Homo sapiens: one gene and its partner. The protein of the gene in region 1 interacts with the protein of each later gene in a biochemical or structural test. Each region holds a gene or a part of one and is shown on either strand. Other genes may lie near its edges.

What was found.
Region 2: the proteins of SERTAD2 (region 1) and KAT2B form a complex in vitro, tested with the Homo sapiens proteins (one study listed by BioGRID).

Annotation. Positions count from the first base shown.
Region 1 is NC_000002.12:64,646,344-64,651,801, forward strand, and holds part of SERTAD2 (SERTA domain-containing protein 2), read right to left. Parts: intron 2,224-5,458; exon of another isoform or gene 82-2,223; intron 1-81. UniProt on the Homo sapiens protein: Acts at E2F-responsive promoters as coregulator to integrate signals provided by PHD- and/or bromodomain-containing transcription factors.
Region 2 is NC_000003.12:20,120,214-20,125,058, reverse strand, and holds part of KAT2B (histone acetyltransferase KAT2B), read right to left. Parts: intron 2,392-4,845; coding exon 2,255-2,391; intron 1-2,254. UniProt on the Homo sapiens protein: Functions as a histone acetyltransferase (HAT) to promote transcriptional activation. Has significant histone acetyltransferase activity with core histones (H3 and H4), and also with nucleosome core particles.

The DNA.
Region 1 (5,458 bases):
AATGAGCACAATAAATTACTCACACCCCCAGTGAAAACTATTATATTAATTTGATAGGGTTTTTTTTTTTTCTTCACACAGAAGAAAGCTATTAGTGCTCCATGTAAACAAGCACGCCCAATTCAAGTTGGAACTCTTTAAATTCTGGAAGACAGCACATCACATCCAGCCACGAGGGGGCGCAGCCGAGCAGCAAGGAGCGCAAAAGTCTCATTCTTCACTGCAATTTCTACCTACAGCTCTCTCAAAGTATACACATTTTCAAGATTGTTTCCAAATTCAGGTATCCACAGGACACTGCTAAGCAAGCTGGGAGCTTTGCCAAGGCCAAAATAAATTAAATTATGGTACGGTTCAAACTCTGGAAGTACTGTGTATAGGAAAGGTTGTTTCTCTGTATATAAAAGTTAATACTGGTATTTCAAAAACCATGGTTAAAATCCCTGGAGGATTCCTGAAATGAGAACAAACACACAACAACAAACACACACCCAAGTCATGAGATGTGAACGTGGAGAAACCAACAGTTCAGAATTTCCAGTGGGGCTTGCAACATGGACTCCCAATAAAACAATGAGTCTCAATAAATTCGGCACTAAGCTTTTACCAGTATAGATAGACGCCTTTACTGGGCCTACTTACTACTTCTTAATAACTATAAATTATCTCCATACTGAACAGATACTGCTTCAGGCAGTTATTTGGGAAAACCCTTCATAAAGGACATTGGAGAGGGGCCATTTAATTATAAAATGTAACACAGTTAACCTTAGGGAGATGATGAAGCGAGATCATTATGTGTAACTACTTGCTGGGATTCTTTCTATTTAAATTATAAGTTCAGGTTATATGATGTTGTATGTTCAATAATAATGCTCATAATAGATGAAATGTTATAATGAGTCTCCACATTTGAAAATTGGAAACTATAAACATATCTATATTTTATAATCATTTGAATTGTGATACTACTTCATAATAATTTGGTGTCAGAGTATGTTTTTAGCATTTTGAGTCTAAGGCCTCATTAACATTAGGGTAAGGAACTCTCAGATTTGACAATTTTTCCCATAAGATTACGTGCTTTACTAGTAAAGACTAGCCAGCATTGCCCAACCTCCCATTCTCGGGCATAATGAAAATATTTTTTCTCCTGTATTTATAATTGCTTGGATGGGATTCTGTTTCAATCCTCCTGTAGCATCTTTTCCCTAAAGATACACTGTTTTTCTCCCTCACACTAGAGACCCTTAATAAACAATGTCAAGGAGGTGGGGAACTTAGAGTAGAAAGGAAAGGCTTTGCCAAAAGTATGTGACAGTTTTTGTGTTTAAAAAAAAAAAAAAAGACTCAAGATATATGTAAGTCTTACTAAAACAGGGAAATATAAGGTTTTAGAACAATTCTGTGAAAGATAAAATTACATCTTAGTTAAAACCAAAGGTGGCCTTCTAGGTTTTATTAGACAACTATTTGCCACTGAATAAAACTAAGGAATAAAAGTAAAGTATGCTACTTCAAGAAATGCTTCAATGGAAGCTTTTCTTAAAAGTTAAAAATTAAAAACTAGTCATGCCTTCAAATCTGGATGCTTCATTACTATCAAAGAATCACTTAAAATATTCCTTACAAATACAGAACATATTTCATCTTATAACTTATCCGTGCAGTCCAAAGAGGAAAACCTGAGAAATGTTGTTTCTTTTACTTACTGTGTAAAACTGAACATTGTATTGTACGGCCTAAACTTGGATTCCCTAGAGAACAATATCACATTTCTACAACATGACATGAGTACAAAAATTTGAGGTGCAGGATAATAGAAATATACTTGAGACATGCAAATGGAAGGAAATAACTATTTTATGTAATACCTGTCCCATGTAAGTAACCTACATGTTCCGAATGTTTAATTTGGTTGCCTCTAAGAATTAGGTAGGCTAATAAGGTTTTACAAAGACAATTTAAACTTTGTATCATATACCTGAATAATTCACACACAGACAATAATTGTAGAAAGAAAAAGGCAATGAGGATACAACTAAACTTGAGGGGAGTAAATGATACTTTGTAAATATGGCAGCCATTAAAGAATAACTACTTTGGGACTATTTTGAGATAAAATGTTTGTCTTCCCAAGGACTTCTGTGCATTGATAATGAATGGCTCATTGAACTTTAAGCTATGTCACTTAAATACAATAAAAATAATCAGAGTACCACACTAAATGTAATAACTATTTATTTTCTAAGGAAAATACTTCATAATTCTTCAATTACCTTCAATGGTCTTCATGGAAAGCCTTCCTCAACCTCCCCAGCCTGCCACCCCCAGCCTGCCACTCTATTCATTCTACCTGTCTTCTGGAGCTTTAGAAGGAGGCAGGAACCACCTGAAGAATTGAATTTTTAATGTGTAAACCAACTACTTGTCAGAGAGCTAAGAATCACTGCCAGTGAAACGTATTTTATTTTATATTTCTGGACATGGTAAAACTATTTAAAAAAATTAGTTTGCCTTAAAAAGTTCAGAAAAGACCACCAAGTTCCTGACAAGCAGAGAGGCAGAGCAAAAATTCTTCCACTCTGGATCATAGCACCCAAATTCCTCAGGCAGATTGGTTTTCTCTGATAGCACGGAAGACACAGGAGAGGTACAGATGGGCAGGGAGATGTCCCCTCAAAGAAGGAAAGAAATCTGAAAAGCAAATCTGTATCACCTATTATAAAATGGGATAACCACACAGGGAAGATCAGTTTAAAGCAGCTGCCAGCTCGATATCTCATTAGCGTGACTAGGATTTTATGCAAACCTGTTCTGGTGTAGAGATGACCTTGGGACTTTCAGATTCTCTGAGTTTAACTTGGGCAATACTTCTAAACACAAGGGTGGGGTACACCAGCAGGCCTGCTCCAAACCCCAGGAGCTGCAGTGCATGGCGTGGAATGATAAGCAGCCGGCCGGAGCAGAGGCAAGCAAAGCGCTAAAGGCTGATCTGGAGCAAGAGACTTTTGATCATTTAGTGTTTTTGACCATGGTCTATTCAAGTGTACATTTTACTTTTCTTCAACAGGTTCACTCAGCCCACTGTTAAACATCAGTGAGTGTGCATATGGATATACAGAATATATAGACATAGATCATGTCTGTAAGAACCAGAATCCCTTCCCCTTTACTATTCTATGGGAAAGTCCTTAGAGAATGCTTAGCTTCTTTTCAGTTAACTGCCTAGGAAGGTTTTTAAAGGAAAAAAGCTTAGAATTAATTAGTAACTCTGCAAAGCTACAGGTTTTTGTAAAGTGACAAAAAAGATAGTAAGGCAGACATGAATGAGTTTTAAGAACTGAAGTTTGCTGCTACCTGGAGTTACTAGAGAAACAAAGCTGCCTTTGGGCACCTCAAACTAGTCAGACCTGCTATAGCAGTTGCACAGTCAGCTCCAGATCTGTCCTCTGCTCTTCTCCCTCCAGCCCCCACCCCACGCCTCCGCATAGCTCAGTCCACTCTCTACTCAGGGTGGAGGTGGGCCGGGCACACTCACCCCTTGATCTGCTGTCCCTGTGGGGAGGCAGGGCCAGCTCTGGCCAGACAGTGTGCAAGTGTAAGAATAGGCCGGCCAGGAGCACAGATGCCAACTCCATTCTGAGCTGAAAACTGCAATGGGTGCGGAATACAGCTTAGGTGATCTTGGGTTTCCAAAATAGATCAATCAAATTGTGGGGTTTACTTCAGAGAATCCTAGCATTAAGTTCAGATGAGGGACAGAGGATTCTGAGAAAAGACAAATGGGTCTTTCCAGCTTTGGGATCCCTCAGACCACAAAGAGGGCAGAATTTTCAAAAGAGAGTTTGCGCTGTCTATATGTGGTGCTTGTTCAAACTGGCAGTATCTGTTCTGTCCTATTAGAAATCATATATTATAAAATATATTGTGATATTTTACTTTAAAATTTTCATTTGTATTTCAAAGAAAATTTTTAGACAGCCAATCATGTTTTGTTTGTCTCGTGATCTCCGAGAAAAAAAAAACAAAACAAGGAGTCTATTTATTACTCAGAATAGGAATGTCGTCTTATTGGGCTGACATATGCCATTCACAGATTCATACAAAGAATGAACTGCCACACAGTGCTAATGGAGAAAGACACTGCTCCACACAATGAGTGACGGACGCTCCAGGGGACAGTTCTGTTCATAAGGGTTTCCCAGCATCTGCACACAGGGCATAAGTTTGCCTTTAATATCAACTGCACTGGCCATTTGAGACAATCATTTTTTCTAGATTAGTAGCCATTTCCTTCAAACATACTAAAACTAAATGAAATAGCCACACATTTCTTAAACAGGAGTCCTGGCTTGTGGCTTTCTACCAATTGCTTAATGAGTAATTATTAACAATATGTACAAAATATATGAGTTGTGCATATAAAGTGGCCATGGCACTTTTAGATTTTCATGTTTTGCTAGTCAGTATTAATTAACAGAAAGACCTATGAGAGCTGGTGTCACCCTTATTGTGAGGCCATTTTCATGTCAACTGGAGCTTGCCTTCTGGTGCCTTCAGTACACAACTGATCTTTGGACTCAGTAATCAGAGACGGCGCCTGCGCTTGCTCTCTCTCTCACGCACCAAGTAACTATTGCAACTAGAGCTATCTCCTATAGGATATGCCATGACAGTGAATACAAAATTTCTGTTGCCAAGAAGCTTTAAAAATTCTATGAGTGAATTAAAGTTCATGGCCCCAAATACGCCTATCTATATATAGCTTTTTCCACAGGTAATATTGACAAAGTGGTCTTGATTCTGTTGATATATGTGAAATATAAAATAAAGCTTCATACTTTTTTTTCTGTGCTTTTTAACAAGAAACCACAGCAAAAGAAACCTCTCAAAGTTTCTGTTCCAGCTTTCACCTTTCTTAGTTACTAAAATGTAAAATATTTTGTCTGAGGGTAAACTTGTAGTATAATTGGACACTGATAATAAAAGTAGCATGCTGCAAGTTGATAGAAATTTTTATGTATTTGCATTCGAACATCTTCAAACTGCCTTCATACGTTTTGTAATGTTTTTTGTGTGTGATGCATGTGTGTGCCTTTCTAAAGTAGTGTTGTAACTTACTCTGCCATTGGAACCCTGTTTAAAATAGCAGATACCATAAGCTATCAGTCGCCACACAAATTTGAATGAGTTTTAAAATATCAAAATATGTGCTATTTTACTAGGCTCATTATCAGTAATAATTCAGTGTGTAGCAACTGGGCAAAATTCATATTTTAGCTTCTCAATTAAATAGAAAAGCTTTAAAGAGGGACAATTCAGCAAACAGAAGTGTAAAGATTTTCTAAATCTGAATTAATATCCTTCTCTTAGTTCTTCAAGGGAAACAAGCTTGAGCAGCTGTTACCTAAGACGCTGTGACATTCGCCTGACAATAAAACCGTTCCCTAGGACA
Region 2 (4,845 bases), on another chromosome or scaffold:
AGCCACCGCGCCCGGCCTCATGTATATATTCTTAACACCTCTTTTTAAAGAACAGTTTTCTTTCCAGAGAATATCTGTTGACCTACACTCAACCATAGCTGGAAGCACAACCATGTGCCAGCACTTATGCTCCCCATCTTATTTAATCTGCCTAGTGGTTTGCAAGTAGATGCTCCACAAACAGCTCTTCAAGGAAGGAAGGCCCTAACTGGTGACACTTCATCTCATTAGTCCAGAACTGGCTATCCAGGTAACCAGGTGCCATGCTAGTCAACTTCAAGCTACCAACATATGGAACAACCAGCTCACAAAACTCCTGAAAATTTAACAATTTTCTTGTGCATTCCAGTACAAGCCAGCTCTAGTACACTACTAAATATTAATATATCCAAAATATTTTCAAACATGTGACTGCATCCTGATGTAGTTTGAATGTGTGACCCCTCCAAATCTCATGCTGAAATGCAATCTCCAATGTTGGAGGTGGGGCCTAGTGGGAAGTGTTGGATCATCAGGGCAGACCCCTCATGAATGGCCTAGCACCATCCCCTTGTTGATGAATGAGTTATTGCTCAGTTAGTTCATATGAGATTTGGTGGTTTAAAGGGGTCTGGCTCCTCCTCCTCACTCTCTTGTTCCCTCTCTCACCATGTGATGTGCCTGCTCCCACTTCACCCTGCACCATGAGTATAAGTTCCCTGAGGCCTCCCCAGAAGCTGAGCAGATGCTGATGCCATTCTTGTACAGTCTGTGGAACTGTGAGCCAATTAAAGCTCTTTTTTAAAAAAATAAATTACCCAGTCTCAGGTATTTCTTTGTAGCAATGCAATAGACTAGTACAAATCCCCATTTTATAGCTGAAAAAAACCTAAACTCAGCTAATCTGTAATGTTACTAAATCCCTAAAAAACTATAGTCTTAAGCCCTCACAGACTGGACATCTAGGAGGAAATGGAAAGATCAATTTTAGGAAGAGATTTTTCTATTACAACATTCTGGTTCTCTGAAGTATCCTCAATGTCATAAAATAAATATTTAAAGAAACATGACAAATTGAAAATTAACACTGTAATATAATCTCCAAGCCATTTCTTCATTTCCTGGAAGCTGTCAGAAATGTCTTAAGACAGGTATGTCTTAAGAAATGTCATTGCCTTGCATGCCCTCAGATGCAAGGCAATGAGATGACAGCAGCATTTTTACCAAAAATGCCTTACTTGAATCTAATCCTTAGTAAACAATCAACAAATCCAAAAAGAGGGACCTTATACAAAACTAGCGACCAAGACTCTTCACCAATGGCAGTGCTGCAAAAGACCAAAACAAGGCTGGGGAGTTGTTTTAAAGGAGACTAAACAAATGAAGAGATAAGAATTAAATGCAATGCACAATCCCTAACTGATCCTTCAACAACAACAAAGGTTATAACTGACATCATCTGGCTATATGGGAAATTTAAATACGGTTTTATATTAGGCCAGAGGTCAGCAAACTTTTCAGTGAAAAGCCAGATAATAAATATTTCATACTTTGCAAGCCACACATTCCCTGTCTCAATTATTCAAATTTACTGTTGTAATGCAAAGACAGCTGCAAACAATATGTTTCAATAAAACTTTATTTGAAAAAAACAGCCAGTGGAGCAGATTTGGCTTGCAGGCTGTAATTCACCAACCCTGTATTAGAAAATATTGTAACCAGGCTAAATTTTCTAAGAGTAATGACTGCATTGTGGTTATGTAAGAGAATAGCTTCCTTATGAGATACAGTACATGCAAAAATAGTTAGGGGTGAAGTATTATGACATGTGTTTTTAATTCTGAAATGGTTCCAAATGGTTCATGGGGAGTGGGGAGAGAAAGAAAAAGAGCATATGGGGAGGCGCAGAGAGAAAGAGAGGTAGCAAATGTGGCATAATGTTAACTGCTGAATCTCAGTAAAGAGTCTATGGATTTTTATTACAGAATTTCTGCAACATTTATGAGGGCTTGAAATTTTTCAAGATAAAAAGCTGGGAATGATGCCTTCAACTGTGAGATTATTAGTAAGTGGACCTGTGATGTGATATTCATCAAGGGGAATTACCTCTTGATCAGTTGTTCCTGCCCTCTCCACACTGACCACCAGGTTAAATGCAAACCAGGGTAGCATAACATGTTAACTCTCAGCATTAGCATCCCCACTTCTGACAGCTGGAGTGGCCAGGAGAGCAGAAGAGGTCTACCAGCTGGCTGCCCAGGTTTACCCTGCTGACCTCTGGTCCAAGCATTGCTGCAGGGTCCGTGATGGTAGACATAACCTCGTTGATTAATTCCATCGGAATATCCCCCATAACTCGGGGTTTCTTGGCCTCCTCCAGAACATGAGAATCAGTCATTTTCCTCTTTTCTCCTATGATGATCAAAATAAAAGGCAAACAATGGGTGGTTCTAAACACAAAACAAATAATACACGCCAACTAATTTTCTAACAGCATTGATGGGCATGGAGGTCAACTCTATCTTTACCACCAGGGGAAGGGGTGACAAAGGAAGACAGGAAAGAGAGCCATTGTGAGCTCACAATAACTGCCAACCCAATTCATTGTGAATATTTTCTACTTTCTATGATGATTTTTAACTAGATACATGAAATATTAAGGCACATGTTCCTTCATCTGCAAATGCAAAGGGGTGATTCTAGCTATTGTTTGTTAGTACTCTCTAATATAGTCTCTTCAAGGTCAGAGAACATGGTCCATATGACACCAAAACGTCAAAATGGATTGAAATTTTTACCTTATGACCTAAAATAAGACCAATCTTTTGTAAATGTGCAGTGTCTTCTTGGAAAGAATGTGTATTTTCATATTTTGATCTCTATAACTCCATTAGCTTCAGCTTACAGATCATGTTGTATGGATATCAGTAAGAGCCTTACTGATATTTTTGTCTGTTTGACCTATGAATTACTCAGTTGTTTGTTTAAAGCCTCAACCGTTGGTTGATTTGATTATTTCTCCTTGTAGTCATGTTAATTCCACCCCGCCCCCACCGGCACCCCACCATATATGTACGGAAATCAGTTTGCATTAGGCTTTGGGCTTTATTGGTTAGTTATTGCTATGTAATAAACCAACCCCAAATGAGTCTTAAACCATAATAACTTACTATCATAGCTCATTCATTTCGTATGTTTCCTGATGGGTGGCTGATTTCAGCTCATCTCATTCAATCTTGGCAGGCTTGTTCATGAGTCTACCCACTGATTGGAATCTCTGTGCTGGGCTTGGCTATACACACACACACACACACACACACACACACACACACACACACACACACACATATGCATATGTGTATGTATGCATATATATTATGTATATATAGCTATATATTTGAAATATACCATAAATTATTTTTAATAAACAAATTTATGGATTTAATTTTCTATTATAAAATGACACACTTTATCTTTTACAATGCTTTTTTGCCCTAAAATGATGCCTCACAAAGTGAGCAGGACCACTAGCCTATCAAGTAGATGCAATCTCACCATTCCACACAATAGGAGAGCCATGCAAAGGCAGAGAGAACTTTCTTCCGCTTTCCTCATGAGATTGCATGGTAGTTTTTTTCTCCTTTCTATTCTCATGTTTGGTTTTTCCAGTTTTTTCCAGACATAACATGTATTTATTTTTACAAGTAAATTTTTTGAATTTTTAAGATGTCTAGATCTAATTTATTTCCTCACATGTGAATCCCACTGCTATCTCAATATAACATTCTCCACATAGCATTCTCACTATCTCTAGTTGAAAAGGAGCAGAACAGTATAAAGTAACTTGACTGTAGACGATTCTTCCAGAAGTATTACATATTATTTACTAAATCACTTTTGTCGAGTTCTTTTTTTTACAATTTTTTGTTGTTTGTTTTTGGAGACAAGTAACAATATTTTCAGACATCTGACCAATAAGTCCTCAAATTCCATGATTCCCTAAGAGTAATGCTGAAAACTATTTATTTCGTAGCTGGGGTTTGTACTTGATATGCCCTCTGCTTGTTAGACTGCTAATGGTGTTTATGATTTTTTTTAAAAAGTCTGAGGCTGAATCCAAGCTCACTGGTAAAGAGTTTCTGCATGAATTAGTGATATCTCCCTTGGAAGTGAAAGGGAATGGTGGCATATGCTAAATATATGGCACTTCTTATATTATAAGGTCCTCTTCTTTCCCTCTTTCATGGTACTTCTTTTATTTAAAAATTTGGTCACATCCAAGATTTGTCTGACGTCAAGTCTGTGGACAGAAATGCAACCTTCAAAACATTCTCTAACTGTGAAATGCTTCTAGGCTCAAGAGATATTTTTGCCCATGTGGTAGATTACATTAATGGCCAAATTCTTTACCCTCCTGGTATCTACACTCTTTGCTATGTGACTTTGCAGTTATTCCTACGAAAGGAATAGACTACCTTTTTCCACTTCTCCACCTCTCAACTCTGAGTTCAACTACGTGACTTGCTTTGGACGACAGAATGAGGCAGAAGTCAGCAGGGTATGGTGGCTCACACCTATAATCCCAGCACTTTGGGAGGCCGAGACAGGTAGATTACCTGAGGTCAGGAGTTTGAGACCAGCCTGACCAATATGGCAAAAACCCATCTCCACCAAAAATACAAAAATTAGCAGGGCATGATGGTGGGCACCTGTAATCCCAGCTACTCAGGAGACTGAGGCAGGAGAGTCACTTAAACCCAGGAGGCAGAGGTTGCAGTGAGCTGAGATCACACCACTGCACTCCAGCCAGGGTGACAGTGTGAGACTCTGTCTCAAATAAAAAGAAAAGAAAAGGAAAAAAAAAAA